Linked DNA regions of Homo sapiens: region 2 is linked to region 1. Evidence: fine-mapped expression QTL. Tissue or cell type: whole blood. Region 1 holds a variant in brackets; the other region holds the start of a gene. All regions are shown on one strand. Distances are from middle to middle.

Evidence for each region. PIP is the estimated chance that this variant, and not a neighbour inherited with it, causes the effect.
Region 2: it holds the start of NUDT18, and the variant in region 1 is fine-mapped to the expression of NUDT18 in whole blood (TOPMed, PIP above 0.99).

What each region holds. Positions count from the first base shown.
Region 1 is chr8:22,082,247-22,090,299 of GRCh38, forward strand. It overlaps DMTN (dematin actin binding protein), which reads left to right. Exons shown (of 16, transcript NM_001387751.1): 16 at 1-279. It overlaps FHIP2B (FHF complex subunit HOOK interacting protein 2B), which reads left to right and starts at 6,904. Exons shown (of 17, transcript NM_022749.7): 1 at 6,904-7,052. The coding sequence starts at 7,008. RefSeq lists enhancers at 3,935-4,544, 7,644-7,783 and silencers at 6,794-7,013, 7,074-7,133, 7,324-7,423. The variant G/T (reference allele first, on the strand shown) is at 4,582.
Region 2 is chr8:22,105,067-22,113,121 of GRCh38, forward strand. It overlaps NUDT18 (nudix hydrolase 18), which reads right to left and starts at 4,353. Exons shown (of 3, transcript NM_024815.4): 1 at 4,073-4,353; 2 at 3,067-3,280; 3 at 1,812-2,829. The coding sequence starts at 4,234. The coding sequence ends at 2,234. RefSeq lists enhancers at 2,153-2,297, 2,694-3,467, 6,880-7,379, a cis regulatory region at 2,225 and silencers at 3,927-4,706, 6,823-7,188.

The DNA of each region.
Region 1 (8,053 bases):
GCTCTCACCTACACCCACGCACCCCCCCACACACTATGCTCTCTCAAGAATGTAATTTATTGGGGCCCCCCCAGCTGCTTTCCTCACCTGCCCCTGCCCTACCTTACACCCCCAGCTTGACTTCTTTCCAGTCCACGTGTGTATATAATGATATCTATATTTTTGCCCAGGTCTGGGTATTGCTCCTGCCCAGACCCTGACATCCCTTTCCACTGTGTGTGTGACCATGCTGGGGGAGGGGGACTCTGCTTGGAATTAAAAGGTTGCATTGGGTCCCTACATCTGTCTTTTCCTTATGAGCCACCAGACCTGGGTGAACGAGACAAGCCATATCAGGCAGAGGGAAGCCCTGGGAGCAAGGGTTCCAATGCAGGGGCCGCCTAGGGCTGGAGGGCTGGAGACACAGCCCCGCAGTACTCTTTCCCCCAAGCCTGGGCCACAGAAGCAGGGGCTGTCTAGACAGGGGCCTGTCTGCCTCTCCTTCAGGGACTCTGTGATGGGGGCAGGAACCCTTGTGTTTGGGGCCAGAGGGAACTCACACCTCAGGGAGGAGGCTGGTAGAGAACTGGCTGGGAGGAAAGACTGCCCCAGCCCTCCACCAAATCCCAACGTGCTCGCCTTGGTAGCCAAGCTCAACATCAGACATGGTTGTCCCTCCCAAGGGGCAGGGTGCTCATGGTTCAATGGGGAGGCCGAACACAGAAAAGGTCAGCAGGATGTGAGTGTGTGGTGAGCTGATTGCCAAGAATCAGGCAGGGGAAACTAAGGAATGGAGAAATGGCAGTTGGAGGACGAGTCAAGTGGAGGCCAAGGGAGGAAGATGGGAATTTGGTCTTGGTTGACTTGGTAAGGCCTCCCAAGGGGAAAAGACAGGGAATTGCGTGTTGCGGGTGGGAGGTGGGAGAGGGGCTGCGGATCTGACGGGAAGACCAGAAGGAGGACTGCCTGCAGGTGTGGGTGCTTACGTGGGGAGGGGCCAGCCCCACCTGGCTGGAGCAGAACCATGTGTGGGCACATGAAGAGGCGTGCAGTCAGAGGGACCAGGTGAGTTGGAGGGTGCGCAACTTGTGAACCTGCGACTGGAGCTGGGGCCTAGCCTGAGTACCCTGGTTGAGTTCCTAGCCCCTGTGGCTGAAATAAGCAAAGTGGATAAGAACCCCTCAAATGTGAACGATTATTTTACATTGTAGGAGTTCTGTTGCATCCACAACATCATTTTATCCCTTCAGCAAACCTATGAGGTCAACAGAACAGATCACTGTCATCTTCTTAGCAAATGAGAAAATGGTGGGACAGAGACAATTCCTCTGAAGCCCAGAGCTACAGGAAACCAATGAGTGGAGAGTGGTGACAGGATTCAGGTTTCTAGGACTTTCCCAATAGGTACTGTTGTCTGTGAAGGAGAAGCAGAGGAGGGCAGACTAGGAGGGGCAGAAAGAAATGGGCTCTGCACACATACCCAATACAAGGCATTCAGAAACTGCTGGGGGGCTTAACCCTGCTCTGAGCATGGGGAACACAGCAGTGACCAGGTTGACGTGCCCGTTGTCCAAAAAGAGCTCCCAGGCTGTTCGGGAAAATGTCAAGGTCATTGAACCCTAAGGGGTGCTGGAGACAGGGTTTGGGAACTGTATGTAGTACGGGCAGGTTTGACCCTAGGTCCCAAAGGATTTTCAATTCATGAGAATTTAGAGCATATACATGATGGGATATTACTCAGCCATAAAAAGGAATGAACTAATGGTATTCACAGCAACCTGGATGGCACTGGAGACTATTATTCTAAGTGAAGTAACTCAGGAGTGGAAAACCAAACATCATATGTTCTCACTCATAAGTGGGAGCTAAGCTATGAGGTCGCAAAGGCATAAGAACGTCACAAGGGACCAGGCGCAGTGGCTTAAGCCTGTAATCCCAGCACTTTGGGAGGCCGAGGCGGGAGGATTGCCTAAGCTCAGAAGTTTGAGACCAGCCTGGGCAACATGGCGAAACCCCGTCTCTACTAAACATACACAAAATTAGCTGGGCATGGTGGCACACGCCTGTAATCCGAGCTACTCAGGAGGCTGAGGCATGAGAATCGCTTGAACCTGGGAGGCAGAGGTTGCAGTAGGCCGAGGTCGTGCCACTGCACTCCAGCCTGGGCTACAGAGCAAGACTCTGTCACAAAAAAACAAACAAAAAACCCACGATGGACTCTGGGGACTCAGGGGGAAAGGGTGGGAAAGGGGCGAGGGATAAAAGACTACAAATTGGGTGCAGTGTATACCGCTCGGGTGATGGGTGCACCAATATCTCACAAATCATCACTGAAGAACTTATTCATGTAACCAAACACCACCTGTTCTCCAATAACCTATGGAAAAAAAAAAAAAAAAGAAGGCTGGGCGCGGTGGCTCACCCCTGTAATCCCAGCACTCTGGGAGGCCAAGGCAGGTGGATCACCTGAGGTCAGGAGTTTGAGACCAGCCTGGCCAGCATGGTGAAAACCCATCTCTACTAAAATTAAAAAAAAAAAAAAATTAGAGCAGCTCAGACTGGAGCTCTTTGTCCCTAAAACAAAGCCTTAGGAAGAGCCTCTCAGTGCCTCCTCCCCACAACACACACATAAATAAATAAAAAATGAAAAAATTAAAGCATGAGCAAATTATTTCACATTGAGAGTCATTGACTATATGGCTTTTTTTTTTTTTTTTTTTTTGAGTCAGAGTTTCTCTCTTGTCACCCAGGCTGGAGTGCAATGGTGCAATGTCAACTCACTGCAACCTCCACCTCCTGAGTTCAAGCGATTCTCCTGCCTCAGCCTCCCAAATAGCTGGAACTACAGGTGCCCACCACCACGCCCGGCTAATTTTTTACATTTTTCGTAGAGATGGGGTTTTCACCATGCTGGCCAGGCTGGTCTCAAACTCCTACCTCAGGTGATCTGTCTGCTTTGGCCTCCCAAAGTGCTGGGATTACAGGCATGAGCCACCGCACCCAGCCATATGGCCTTCTCCTTGAATCTGGCCTTCATGCCTTGCATGTTTAAAGCAGCTTACCCGTGTTACTCGGGAGGCTGAGGCAGGAAGATCACTTGAGGTCAAGAGTTTGAGACCAGCCTGGGAAACATAGCAAGACCCCATCTAAAAAAAAAAAATGAATACATAGGGGCTGGGCGTGGTGGCTCACGTCTGTAATCCCAGCATTTTGGGAGGTCAAGGTGGGCAGATCACGAGGTCAGGAGATCCAGACCATCTTGGCTAACACGGTGAAACCCTGTCTCTACTAAAAATACAAAAAATTAGCCGGGCGTGGTGGCGGGCACCTGTAGGCCCAGCTATTTGGGAGGCTGAGGCAGGAGAATGGCGTGAACCCAGGAGGCAGAGCTTGCAGTGAACCAAGATTGTACCACTGCACTCCAGCCTGGGCGACAGAGCGAGACTCCTCAAAAAAAAAAAAAAAAAAAGAATACATAAAACTCAGTTTACCGTGAAATCATCTTCAACTCTTCATTTAAGCTGATAGGAGAGGCTTTTTTCAAAGGTCTTCCCCTAAATGGGCTAACCTGGCCTCAGAATTTAATAAAACCTCATGGTCTTTGATATTTCTGGACTATAACACATGTAGTGTGTACACTGACTTTTATTAGAGTTTTAAAAATAACATGTAAAAAGTTAAGTCGAATAAAAGGTTATGAACTCCTGATGTACTTTCATTATCCCCTAGAGTCCTCTGAGACATGCTGAAGGGAAGCAAGCTGATTTGACCTATCCAGCCTGGGTCCTTTACCTGTGAGGAGGTGGGCCTAGAAATCTGCAGAGACTGAATTGGAACTCCCACCTGTCAGAGAACTGAGGTCCCAATCAATTCTCACTCAGCCTGGGCTTGGCTGAACCCTGGCCCTCCTCAGGGCCTGAGGCCCAGACACTGGCCACCCTGGCTCAGAGTCTGGACTGCAGGCTCCACACCACAGCACAGAGCCCACTCTGGGCAGGTCAGCATTTCCTGTGCCTCAGCCCCACTGGGGAATGGGTCCTAAAAGGTGAGGCAGGTCCTGTGAAGCCCGAGACCCCAAAACTCTAGGTTCTATAATTCTGACAGGGGCTATTCTTCCTTCCCGAGGGAAACTGATTCCTTTCCCTCTCGTCATATTGAGAGGTGACAGCGTGCTGGCAGTCCTCACAGCGCTCTCGGCGCCTCCTCTGCCTGGGTTCCCACTTTGGCGGCACTTGAGGAGCCCTTCAGCCCACCGCTGCACTTTGGGAGCCCCTTTCTGGGCTGGCCAAGGCCGGAGCCGGCTCCCTCAGCTTGTAGGGAGGTGTGGAGGGAAAGGCACGAACGGGAACCGGGGCTGCGCGCGGCGATTGCGGGCCAGCTGGAGTTCCGGGTGGGCTTGGGCTTGGCGGGCCCCGCACTCGGAGCAGCCGGCCGGCCCTGCAGGCCCCGGGCAATGAGGGGCTTAGCACCCGGGCCAGCAGCTGCGGAGGGTGTACTGGGTCCCCCAGCAGTGCCAGCCCACCGGCGCTGCGCTCGATTTCTCACCGGGCCTTAGCTGCCTTCCCGCGGGGCAGCGCTCGGGACCTGAAGCCCGCCCATACC[G/T]GAGCCTCCCACCCGCTCCGTGGGCTCCTGTGCGGCCGGAGCCTCCCCGACGAGCGCCGCCCCCTGCTCCAGGGCGCCCAGTCCCATCGACCACCCAAGGGCTGAGGAGTGCGGGCGCACGGCGCGGGAGCACGGCGCGGGACTGGCAGGCAGCTCCACCTGCAGCCCCGGTGCGGGATCCACTCGGTGAAGCCAGCTGGGCTCCTGAGTCTGGTGGGGACGTGGAGAACCTTTATGTCTAGCCCAGGGATTGTAAATACACCAATGGGCACTCTGTATCTAGCTCAAGGTTTGTAAACACACCAATCAGCACCGTGTGTCTAGCTCAGGGTTTGTGAGTGCACCAATCGACACTCTGTGTCTAGCTGCTCTGGTGGGGCCTTGGAGAACCTTTGTGTCAACACTCTGCATCTAGTTAATCTGATGGGGACGTGGAGAACCTTTGTGTCTAGCTCAGGGATTGTAAACGCACCAATCAGCGCCCTGTCAAAACAGACCACTGGGCTCTACCAATCAGCAGGATGAGGGTGGGGCCAGATAAGAGAATAAAAGCAGGCTGCCCAAGGTAGCAGTGGCAACTCGCTTGGGTTCCTTTCCACACTGTGGAAGTTTTTTTCTTTCACTTTTTGCAATAAGTTGCTGCTGTTCGTTCTTTGGGTTTCCCACTGCTTTTGTGAGCTGTAACACTGACGGCAAAGGTGTGCAGCTTCACTCCTGAAGTCAGCGAGACCACGAACCCAACAGGCGGAACTAAAAACTCCAGACGCGCCGCCTTAAGAGCTGTAGCACTCACCGCGAGGGTCTGCAGCTTCACCCCTAAGCCAGCGAGACCATCGAACCCACTAGAAGGAAGAAAGTCCAAACACATCCGAACATCAGAGCAAACTCCAGACGTGCCACCTTAAGAGCTGTAACACTCCCTGCAAGGGTCTACAGCTTCATTCTTGAAGTCAGTGAGACCAATGAACCTACCAATTCCGGACACAATATGATGTCAGTGATAAGCAGAGACACTGGTTTTTGTTTCTTAGAGAGACACTATTTTGCTGTCACCCAGTCTGGACTGCAGGGGCACGATCATAGCTCATTGCAGCCTCGAACTCCTGGGTTCAAGTGATCCTCCTCCCACCTCAGTCTCCCGAGCAGCTTGGACTACAGGCACATACCACCACACCTGGTTATTTTGTATTTTTATTTTTTGTCAAGACAGGATCTTCATATGTTGCCCAGGCTGGTCAACAGCCTTGGCCTCCTAAAGTGCTAGGATTTCAGGCTTGAGCCACCACACTCAGCTGCAGACTTTTTTTTTTTTTTTTTTTTTTTTGAGACGGTCTCACTCTGTTGCCCGGGCTGGAGTGCACTGGCACGATCTTGGCTCACTGCAACCTCTGCCTCTCGGGTTCAAGTGATTCTCCCACCTTAGCCTCCACATACCACCACGCTTGGCTAATTTTTTTGTATTTTTAGTAGAGACGGGTTTTCACCATGTTGGCCAGGCTGGTCTCAAACTCCTGGCCTCAAGTGATCAAACCGCCTTGGCCTCCCAAAGTGCTGGGATTACAGGTGTGAGCCACCGCCCACAGCCCATAAACATTTTCTGATAGCCCTGTCAAAAAAGTAAAAAGCAACACGTGAAGTTAATTTTAACAATATACGTTATTTAACCCAACACACCTAATAGTCATTTCAATATGTAATCAATATAAGCCATGGTTGTTGCAGTTTCACACTTTCCTTTCTTACTGTATCTTCCAAATCGGGGTGTGCTTGGCACGGCACATCTTGGTTGGGACCAGCACATTTCAGGAGCTCATCAGCCCATGTGCCTGGGGCTGACTGAGACTTCAATTCAGGAGGAATTGTAATTTCTCTTCGAAAACACCTCCCTTAGCTCCCGCCTTAATCCCAGCTACTCAGGAGGCCCTGGCGGGAGGGTCGCTTGAGGCCAGGAGCTGGAGATCATCCTAGGCAGCACAGTGAGACCTCCCCTCCCAGTAAAAAAACAAAAAAAAAAAACAATTGGCCAGGCGTGGTGGCGCGCGCCTGTGGACCCAGCTACTCTGGAGGCCGGGGTTGGAGGATCGCATGAGTCCAGGAGTTGGAGGCTGCAATGAGCAGAGATCGCGCCACTACACTCCAGCCTGGGCGACCAAGCGAGACCCTGTCTCGGAAGAAAGGAAAGAAAAAAAAAAAAAAAAAAAACACCTCCCAGCCAACTCTCAGGGCCCACCGCTGGCGGTTCCCAGCCCGACTGGGCGCCCCCAGCCGGGGTTAGCCAGCGCCACGCAGCCGGGCCGGGAAGGGGCGGAGCGGCCGGGCCCCGCCCCCCTCGTCGCGCCGGGGCCGCCGGGGCCACGGGGCTGCCTCCTCCGCCTAGAGCGCTGCCGCCGCCGCTTTCGCCCGGGAGCCGGGGGCCGGGCGCCATCATGCTGAGCCGGCTCGGGGCGCTGCTGCAGGAAGCCGTGGGGGCGGTGAGGCCGGCAGGGCCGGGCCGGGCCGCCGGGAGTCGCGGGCCTAGGCCGGGCTGGGCGGGCGCGGAGCCGGGCGCGGCCCGCAGGAGGGCGGGCGGGCGCGGGCCCCCTCGGGCAGGGACCCCCGGGCCGCGGCGCCCCTTCCTCTGCCTCCCCGGCCGCGCCCCGCTTCCCCTCGCTCTTCCCAGTCCCGCTCCCAGACTCCTCCCGACCGCCCCACCTCCCCGGCCTGCTCCCGCGTCGCTTCCTGTCTGTGCGTCCTGGCCCCGGAGTCTCTCCCAATTCCCGAACTCGCCTCCGCCGGGACGCTCCCTGTCACCGCTTGGGGTGTTTCCTGCCCCCCGGGGCCCTAGGCCGCCTCCCCCCAGTCCCGGTGGGCCTGCCTCCTTCCTCCGCTCCACCCCACCGCCTCGCCTGGGCTTGAAAAAATCGCCGTCCCTTCCCCTCGGTCTGATCTCCCAGACAACTCCAGGACCTTGTTGGGGTGCAGGACGCCCTTCCCGTCACCCCGGGACGTGGGAAGTGCAGGCCCTGCCGGTCCAAGTCCCCACGAAGGGTAAAGACCCGGGGCAGGCTGGTGGGCCCCCAGCCGGGGAAATCGCCTTCTATTGGGTGCAGATGTTTCCAGCGTGGCTGTGACCCCTCACAAGCCAAATTGAGTTAGGGACATGCCGCCCGTGGTGGGGCCTGGGTGGCCCTGTGCGGGGAGGAGAGTCCATTGATGTTTCACGTGCCGTCAGTTTGTGTTTTTGCCATTTTTTGTTGGGGCTGCAGGCTGGCAGGCAGCCTACTACTAGGGTTCGTTCAGCAAGATGTAGCGCTGTGTAGGAAGGGTGGGGGTATTCCCGGTAGGGTGGGGGGGGTGCCCGCTGTTGAAAGTAACTCTGCCAAGAAGCTGTCTGTAAAGTCAGCAATACTTCTGCCTCCTAGTATAAATCTTCCCCCAATTGATGAGTTGAGTATCAGATTTTCTCAGGAGAGAAAGTCTTGGGTTTCACCCT
Region 2 (8,055 bases), 23 kb after region 1:
TCACCAGTTAAATTATTGTTGCTGGGGGTACACCCAGAGTTCAAGCTCTCCAGGTGGTTGTGCATGGTGGCTCACGCCTATAATCCTAGTACCTTGGGAGGCTGAGGCGGGAGGATCACTTGAGGACAGAAGTTCAAGACCAGCCTTGGCAACATAGTGAGAACCCCATCTCTACTAAAAGCTTAAAAATGCGCCTGTGGTTCCAGCTACTTGGGAGGCTGAGGCAGGAGAATCACTTGTCACTTGAGCCTGGGAGGTCAAGGCTGCAGTGAGCCAGGATCACACCACTCCACTCCAGCCTGGGTGACAGAGCAAGACCCTGTTTGAGGGAAAAAAAAAAAAACCCAGGTGACCCTAACGTGTGCCCAGGGTTGGAAACTACTAGGCTAAATAATGGGGGCAAATAGCCAAATGTCATTGCCCGGCTGACTGGATATGGGCCAGTGGGTCCCTTAGACACTGAGAGAAGTGAACTGAAACAAAGGGGTTTGGTTCCATCATTTGTGAGGTATTTGTCCTCAGAGGGTACAAGGATTCCTACCACCCTCCAGGGCCCAGAAAGGAGGGCAGCCAAGAGAGGCAGGGAGGGGGCTGGGAAAGGGGCCTTGGAGGTCATCTTGGCCCTCAGAAGGGGAGCCTGTGCTAGTGTTTCCTTGCTCAGAATCAGAAATCTCTACCGTAGAACACTTGATATATTTTATTTGTTCATTTCCTTTGATTTTGCTTAAATTTCAGTAAAGTTCTTTTTTTCCTCTTTCTTTTCTTTTTTCTTTTGAGAGAGGGTCTTGCTGTCTCACCCAGACTGGAGTGCAGTGGCCTGAGCATGGCTCACTGCAGCCTCAACCTCCCGGGCTCAAGCCATCCTCCTGCCTCAGCCTCCTGAATAGCTGGGATTTACAGGTGTGCACCACCTTGCCTGGCCTTTTTTTTTTCCTGTAGACACAGGGTCTCACTATGTTGCCCAGGCTGGCTTCAAACTCTGGCCTTCAAGCGATCCTCCTGCCTCAGCCTCCCAAAGCACTGGGGTTAAAGGTGTGAGCCACCGTGCCTGGCCAAAGTTCTTTTTTTTTTTTTTTTTTTTTCAGACGAAGTCTATCACCCAGGCTGGAGCTCGGCTCACTGCAACCTTTGCCTCCGGGGTTCAAGCGATTCTCCTGCCTCAGCCTCCTAAGTATCTGAGATTACAGGCATCTGCCAACATGCCCGGCTAGTTTTTTGTATTTTTAGTAGAGATGGGGTTTTGCCATGTTGGCCAGGCTGGTCTCGAACTCCCTGACCTCAAGTGATCCACCTGTGTCAGCCTACCAAAGTGTTGGGATTACAGGTGTGAGCCACTGTGCCCGGCCACTTAGCAAAAAAAAAAAAAAAAAAAAAAAAAAATCCTACCATGATTCAGCGAGGCTGAGGGGAAATGAAGAAAAGGTTTGGTCTGGCATGGGCTGAAGTTGTGAAAAGGCAGAGGCAGGAGAGCCAGGGGGAGTGGTCTGCGCCAGGGAGGCTCAAGGAGAGAGCAGAGGCAGCACCTGCAGCTCCTGTCCCACTTGAAGTTCCTCTGGGGCCGCCCACTGCCCAACCCTTGGAGGGCTCAGAGCTGTGTTTCATTAGGGATGGGTCCCCTCAGAGTCACATCCCGGGCCAGCAGGCCAACTGGAGGGAGCCCCAGGGGCCGTGCTGGACAGCAGACTGGCCCGCACTGTCAGTGCACTGGGAAAGGCATGGGTGCCTGTGGGTAACACGAGGGGAGCAGCAGCTCCTGGACAGTAGTCCCCATCACTTTCTCCCCACAGAGACGTGTAGGCAGGGAGGCAAGGTGAGTAACACCTCTTTACTCAGCAACGTGCTCCTCCCTCGGGGGACCTTCCCCAGTGCCCCTCCATGCTCGAAGGGCCTGGAAGGATCAGAATGCAGGCCTTTCCCAAGGACGGCACAGAACGTGATGAGGAGATGCCACTGGGGGTGCAGAAAGCTCCCCATCCCCCTGGGAAGAGGCGTCAGCGTGCCCTCAGGGTAGTCAGGTCCTGAGCTTTGGACTCCTCGCTTGGTTAAAGGCACTGTCCCTTGTGCAATCTAGAGGAATGCTCCTCAAAGCATCTCTCCTGGGGACCAGGAGAGCCGCCCCTGCTCCCAATGCAACAAGATCCCTGATCGCCAGCCTCTTGCCTCCCTCAGAGGGAGACAAGTCCGCACTGGAGGGAGCACGGCTGCCTAGCTCCCTGTCACCTCCCCCACCTCTCTATCTGTTCACTGGGACAACAGAGGATCCCTGAAGCCGCTGGAGGAGCTGGCTTTGCAGGTCTTCCTCCATCACCTTCCACCAAGAGAAGTTCTCACCCCGAACTTTTGGGGGTTCATCCTGGATCCCTGGGCTCCGAAAAGCCACGGTCACCAGCACATTCAAACAGATGCCATCACTGTGATCTCGGCCCAGGTGCTGCAGTCCAAGCAACCCCTTGATCTCCACCACCAAGTGGTGCAGGGTCAGACACTCCTGCAGCAGCCGCAGGACGGCCATCTTCATGCCACCCCTCTGCTCCATAGGGTCGAGGCCACAGGCAGTGACAGGCAAGTGAGGCATCCCCACTGTGCCCACTAACACCCACACTGTCTGGGCGCTGGTAAAGGTAGCCACGAGCCGCTGGCAGACCAGATCACAGGGTAGCTCTTGGGGCAGAATGAGAGGGTGCCTGGCTTGCTGGCGATACTGGGCGGCTAGTTCAACCAGGTGCAGGATGTCATGGGCTCGCAGCGGAGTGGGCAGGGAGGTCCGTGGGTACCAGGCAGCCTGCAGGGACTCCGCATCGGCCTCCTTGGAAGTCTTGAGAATTCCACCTGGGGGAGATGTGGGGGATGGGGCAGGGAGGGTCTGTGTGGAGAGAAGTGCAGCTCTGGCAGAGTCAACAGACATCCCTGACCCAGGAGAGAGGCCCCCAGCCCAAAGGCTGGAATCTGCCCATGCCAGGCTGTGCCAGCCATAACAGGACTGGCTGTAGAGGGGCTCACCTCACCGAGGAGCTGGGGGAAAGGTGTCAACTGGCCCTGTTCACACTGCCTCCAGGTGGGCCATACCTGTGGGGCGAGCGAGGAACACGAAGCGGACCCAGGAGGGGCCCCGCTCCTCCACGGACAGCAGTGTCTCGGGCTCACAGTGCAGCCCCGCCTCCTCCTTCACCTCCCGCTGCAGCGCCTCCACGATGGTCTCCCCTGGCTCCATTCTCCCCGCAGGCAGGTACCACGACCCCCGGCACTCCCTCTTGGCCTCCTGGATCAGTAGCACCTCATCCTGAGAGGAGAGAGGATCCTCACTTCCTGCCACAGCCTTCCCTCGCCCCGGGACCAGGGGGCATCTCAAACACAGTCGCCCAAGACTCCCCTCTGGGTGGACACTCTCAACCCAGCTAGCGCTCCAGGAGACCTGCCCTCGTGTCGCTGGGGGCTGCAGCCCTCTCCTCTCTGCAATTCGTCTCTCTCTGGATTTAGGAAGACTTCCATTTCAGGAAGGGCTGAGATTCCTGGAAGCCGCTTCAGGGGCTGGAGATGAGGCCCCAGAGTGAGGGTCACCATGTGTCTGTCTGTCTTGGATTGATTTGCGTCTGTACCTGCCACTGTGTATCTCTCGCCTCCAACGGCGTGGTTTACAAACTGTGATGGGTCCTCACACTGGGGTCTGGCTTGAAACACGACCCCCACCTCCGCTCTGTACAACCCCGCCCTATGGCCCTGGCCCCGTCTAGTTGTCATTACATCGCCCACTACAGGCATCAGCACCAAAGGCCTGAAGGTAAGCCGGGATTGAGCCACTGCTATCTGAGGGGCCCTGGGCACTCCGCTAGACTCTGGGGAAGGGAAGGAATGAGGCCTAGTCGGATGAGACAAACAGGCCCCGGGCCTCAGTTTCCTCTTCTGCATATCGGGACGAACGCAGGACACAGATGCGAGTGGGAGTGGGAGTGCTTTGCAAAACTGGGAAGCGCCACGCACGCGGCAGCGCTGGCTGTGGCCGTTGGGTCTTCTGTCCCCACCTGGGCTGGCTGCGCGCTCCCGAGGCCCGGCGGGCCCGGGGGCGGCCGCTCACCTGCTCGCTGAGGAACACGGCCAGCACCACGTAGCACACGTTCTTCCGCAGCCGCACGGGCGCCGGCGGCTCCCCGGCCGGCGCCGAGTCGCAGCTGTGCACGCTGGACCCCTGGCCAGCCAGCACGGAAGCCAGCGCCCCCGCCAGGCCCTCCGAGGCCATCGGGTCCCCCGGGGGGCGGCGGGCCGGATCCTCGCAGACCGACTGAGCCGAGCCGCGGGCTAGAGTGCGCTGCGGAGCCCGCTCCCAGTCCCTGCGGCAGCGGGCCGGGAGCTCACGAGAACGCGGAAGCGCACGCGAACGCGGAAGCGCACGCGAGCTCTGGCCGCTGATAGGCTGCGCGGCGCCGCGGCCTGCCCGGATTGGCCGGCCCGCGGCATTCACCGAGGGGGCGGGGCCGCCCGGGGCCGCCCTGGAACTGGGGGGGCACGGGTCCGGAGCCCAGCGGACCCCGCCCGGCTTCTGCCGCCTGTCAGTCCCGTGCGCTCGGGACGTCTCCCAGCCGCCACCCGCTCGCCAACTCCCCGAGCGCGCACTGGTCTGCAGGAGCTCCGACGGTGACGTCATCTTTCCTGCAGGGCGCGTTGCGCCGCCGGGGTAGGCGACGGTGACGCGACAATCCGGTGACGTCACGGAGGCCCGGGGCCGCCCCCTGGAACCACTGTCCCGCTGTTGCCGTAAACACACAATGGCATTGCCGGAGTTGATCATATCCCAAATACCTTTCTTCTCATTCCACCAAAGAGTTATAAATGTCACATGGCCCGTGGGGTGGGGGACATAAACCCCTGCCTTGAAGGAGATTCTGCAATAGTTGGAGAGATGGACGGAGTCCTAGATGAGGAGTCAGCTGAGGGTTCGAGGCTAAGTGCTAAATGCTTGGTTTGGGCAGGAAGAGTGACAGGCGCTGGAAGGAGGGAGGGGGCAGGGCTGGGGATGGCGGGAGGGGTCCGGGGCTGAGAGAAGGCTGCCGTCAGCCGGCCCACCCTCATCAGTGTCCCTCTGCCTACCGCATTTCCCACGCAGCTCAAGGCCCTCTCTGCTGCAGATGGTGCGCCCTGGGAGGGCGGGGGTGGGGCCCTGCTCCTCCATCCTTGTCGTCACCCTCCCACCCAGCGTGCAGGACCTGGCGCGTGGAGAGCAGGGTGGGGGTGGTTGTGGCGAGCGCCTGCTCCTCTCCCAGCTCGGCCTTTCCTCCTTCACCCCACCTCAGCACTGGAAGGCAAAGCCAGCTGGAAGGGATCTGCGAAGCAGGCCGTCTGGCTCCTCACCTGGCAGAGGCCACCCCTTTCCTCTGCCTCTGATAGTTTTGTGCGCCTCCCTGCTAGGGAGACTGTGGCTTGGTGGTGTGGACAAAGCTCAGGACCTGCAGCCAGATGGCCAGCCACTGCTGACTGGCTTGCTCTGTGCTCCTGGGTGAGCTGTGGGCCTCAATTTTCTTATTTGTAGAGCAGGATCATAGCAATTCTTCTTTTACAGGGGTGTTGGGAAGCCACAACAATTGGAGAGGAGCTGTGTGGATTGTCCAGCACTGGGCACCGTCCCCAGGCAGCCCACCAACCCTCAGGGGTGGTCCCTCTCCACCATAGCTCTTGCTACCACACGCAAGGCCTGCCCTCATGAAATGTGACTTTTGTTATCCCCTAGAGTCAGGGTTTCACTGTGTTGCTCAGATTGGAGGTGCAGTGGCGTGATCACAGCTCCTACTGCAGACTTGATCTCTTGGATTCGAGTCATCCTCCTGCCTCAGACTCCTGAGTAGCTGGGACTGCAGGTGTGCACCACCACGCCTGGCTAAATTTTTAATTTTTAATTCTTTGTAGAAACGAGGGTCTTGCTGTATTGCCCAGGCTGGTCTTGAACTCCTGGCCTCAGTGATCCTCCCACCTTGGCCTTCCAAAGTGCTGTGGTTGCAGGCATGAGCCACCATGCCTGGCGAAATGTGCCTGTAGAGCTGCCTTAGAACTGGACTCAGGAACTTCAGCAACGCAGGATGCATCTCTTTAGGCTCCTCTCACCTGCTGATACTGACCACAGGCTCCCTGGAGGCAGGGCCCTGTGTTAGGCTGTGGGATATCACTAGAAGGCCCATGAATTTTGAGGCACTTGCTGAACGCCGCTGGGCCAGGCCCTATCATGGACCTCTCACCTTCCAAATAACTGCAGGCACAGGACCCCAGGACTGCAGAGCAACTTGTCAACATATTTGCTCTGTGTGTGTGTGTGTGTGTGTGTGTGTGTGTGTGTGTGTGTGTGTCTTGCGGCACACACATGTGTGAATCCCTCAGTTTTCCCACCTGTGAAGTGGGGGAAGTTGGACCCAGACTCCTGTCTGCCTCGCAGGGATGATTTGAGAGAGTGAGATCATGTCTAGGCAGGGATCTGGGAGCTTCAGAGGCAGCCTAAGGTAAACAACAGAAGGCCTCACTGCCCAGAGAGCAAAGACCGCAGCAAACCGTGGCTCCACGCCTCCCATTATCCCGGGGGGTAAAGCCCTCCCCCAAAGCCTCTTGTAAACTGTGAAGGGAGTGCTGAGACAACAAAGAGGCAGGAGTTCCCAAGGCCTTGGGAGAGAACAGCAGTGAGACAGAGGCTGGAGAGGCCCTGAGACAAGGGAGGCAGCTGAGGGAGGACGGGAGGCTAGATAGGAACCACCAGTGTCCCCATCAAGTCAACTGTGTGTCCTCCAGTCACAGAGAGGGAAGAACCCTGGCCAGTGTGGCGGGCCGCACAGTATGGTGAATGGGAGTAGCTTAATGCTCCCAGCACCCTTGGGAGCCAAGCCAGAGCCAGCCGTTTCAGGGCATATGTGCGCATGTGCGGTGGGGGTGGGATGGGGGGAGCACAGGAGCAGGAAGGCCTGGGTAGGCGACCATGGGGATGGGGATGGGGATAGGGACAGGCAGGGCAAGGTTGTATCAGGGCATCTGTGATGCTAGAGCCATGGACAGAGCAACAAGGCCTGTGTCTTGACAAGGTAGGAAGGTGAGGAGGGCAGGAACCCAAGCTACAGCGGGAGAGGGAGGGCTGGCCACAGGCTAGCTCTCTGAGGGACCCTGGGGACGCCACATCTACCCTCCAGGCCATCTGTCAAATGCAGGCATGGTTGGATCCTGGAACAGAAAAAGGGCATTCATGAAAAAACTGGTGAAATCCTGGTGAGGCCTGTTGCTTCGTTCGTAGTGTGGTATCAATATTAATGTCGTAGTTTTGATCAAGGCACCATGGTTATGTAAGATGTTCACAATAGGGGAGGCTGGGTGAAGGATAATTGGGAACTTCCTGTGCTATCTTTGTGACTCAGCTGTAAATCTAAAATTATTTCAAAATAAAAAGCCTGAGCATGTATATTCAGGGCAACTCGAATCTATGCTCCTGGGTAAAAAGGGAAAATAAAAAGTCTGAGAATTTTATCAGAGAAAAGGAAAGAAGGCATTGGGTATGCAACCCTGCGCTCACTTCCAGCTTGGCTGGTTGTATGTCTGGGATTTCTGAGCGACAGAGGGGCTGCAGGCAGAGCACAGCTGGTAGACCCTGTGAGCAGCAGAGGCCCAAGGGTCTCTGAGGAACAGTGCCACAGAGTGCCCCAAGACGAGTCTCCGAGTCAGTCCCTACCTGGTCCGGCTGCATTCTCAGGAACAGTGCTGGAACAAATGAACATTGATTCACTTCTGTTTACAAAGAGACCAAATATGTCCTCAAGGGCATTGTGACCCACCTGGAAGGCCAGAGGCGGTTAAGAGGAGATAAGGTCTTGAGGGGAAGACAGAGGTTTAGTGGTGCACTGTTCCCACCCCAATGGGTAAAATTCAGAGAACCATCTTCCCACAGGAAATACTCCAGATTTGGGGTTCTGAGGTGACATCAGGACATGGCTACAGAAGATGAAGTGGGGCATGGTGGATCACGCTTGTAATCCCAGAACTTTGGAAGGCCAAGGTGGGCACATTGCTTGAGCCCAGGAGTTCGAGACCAGCCTGGGC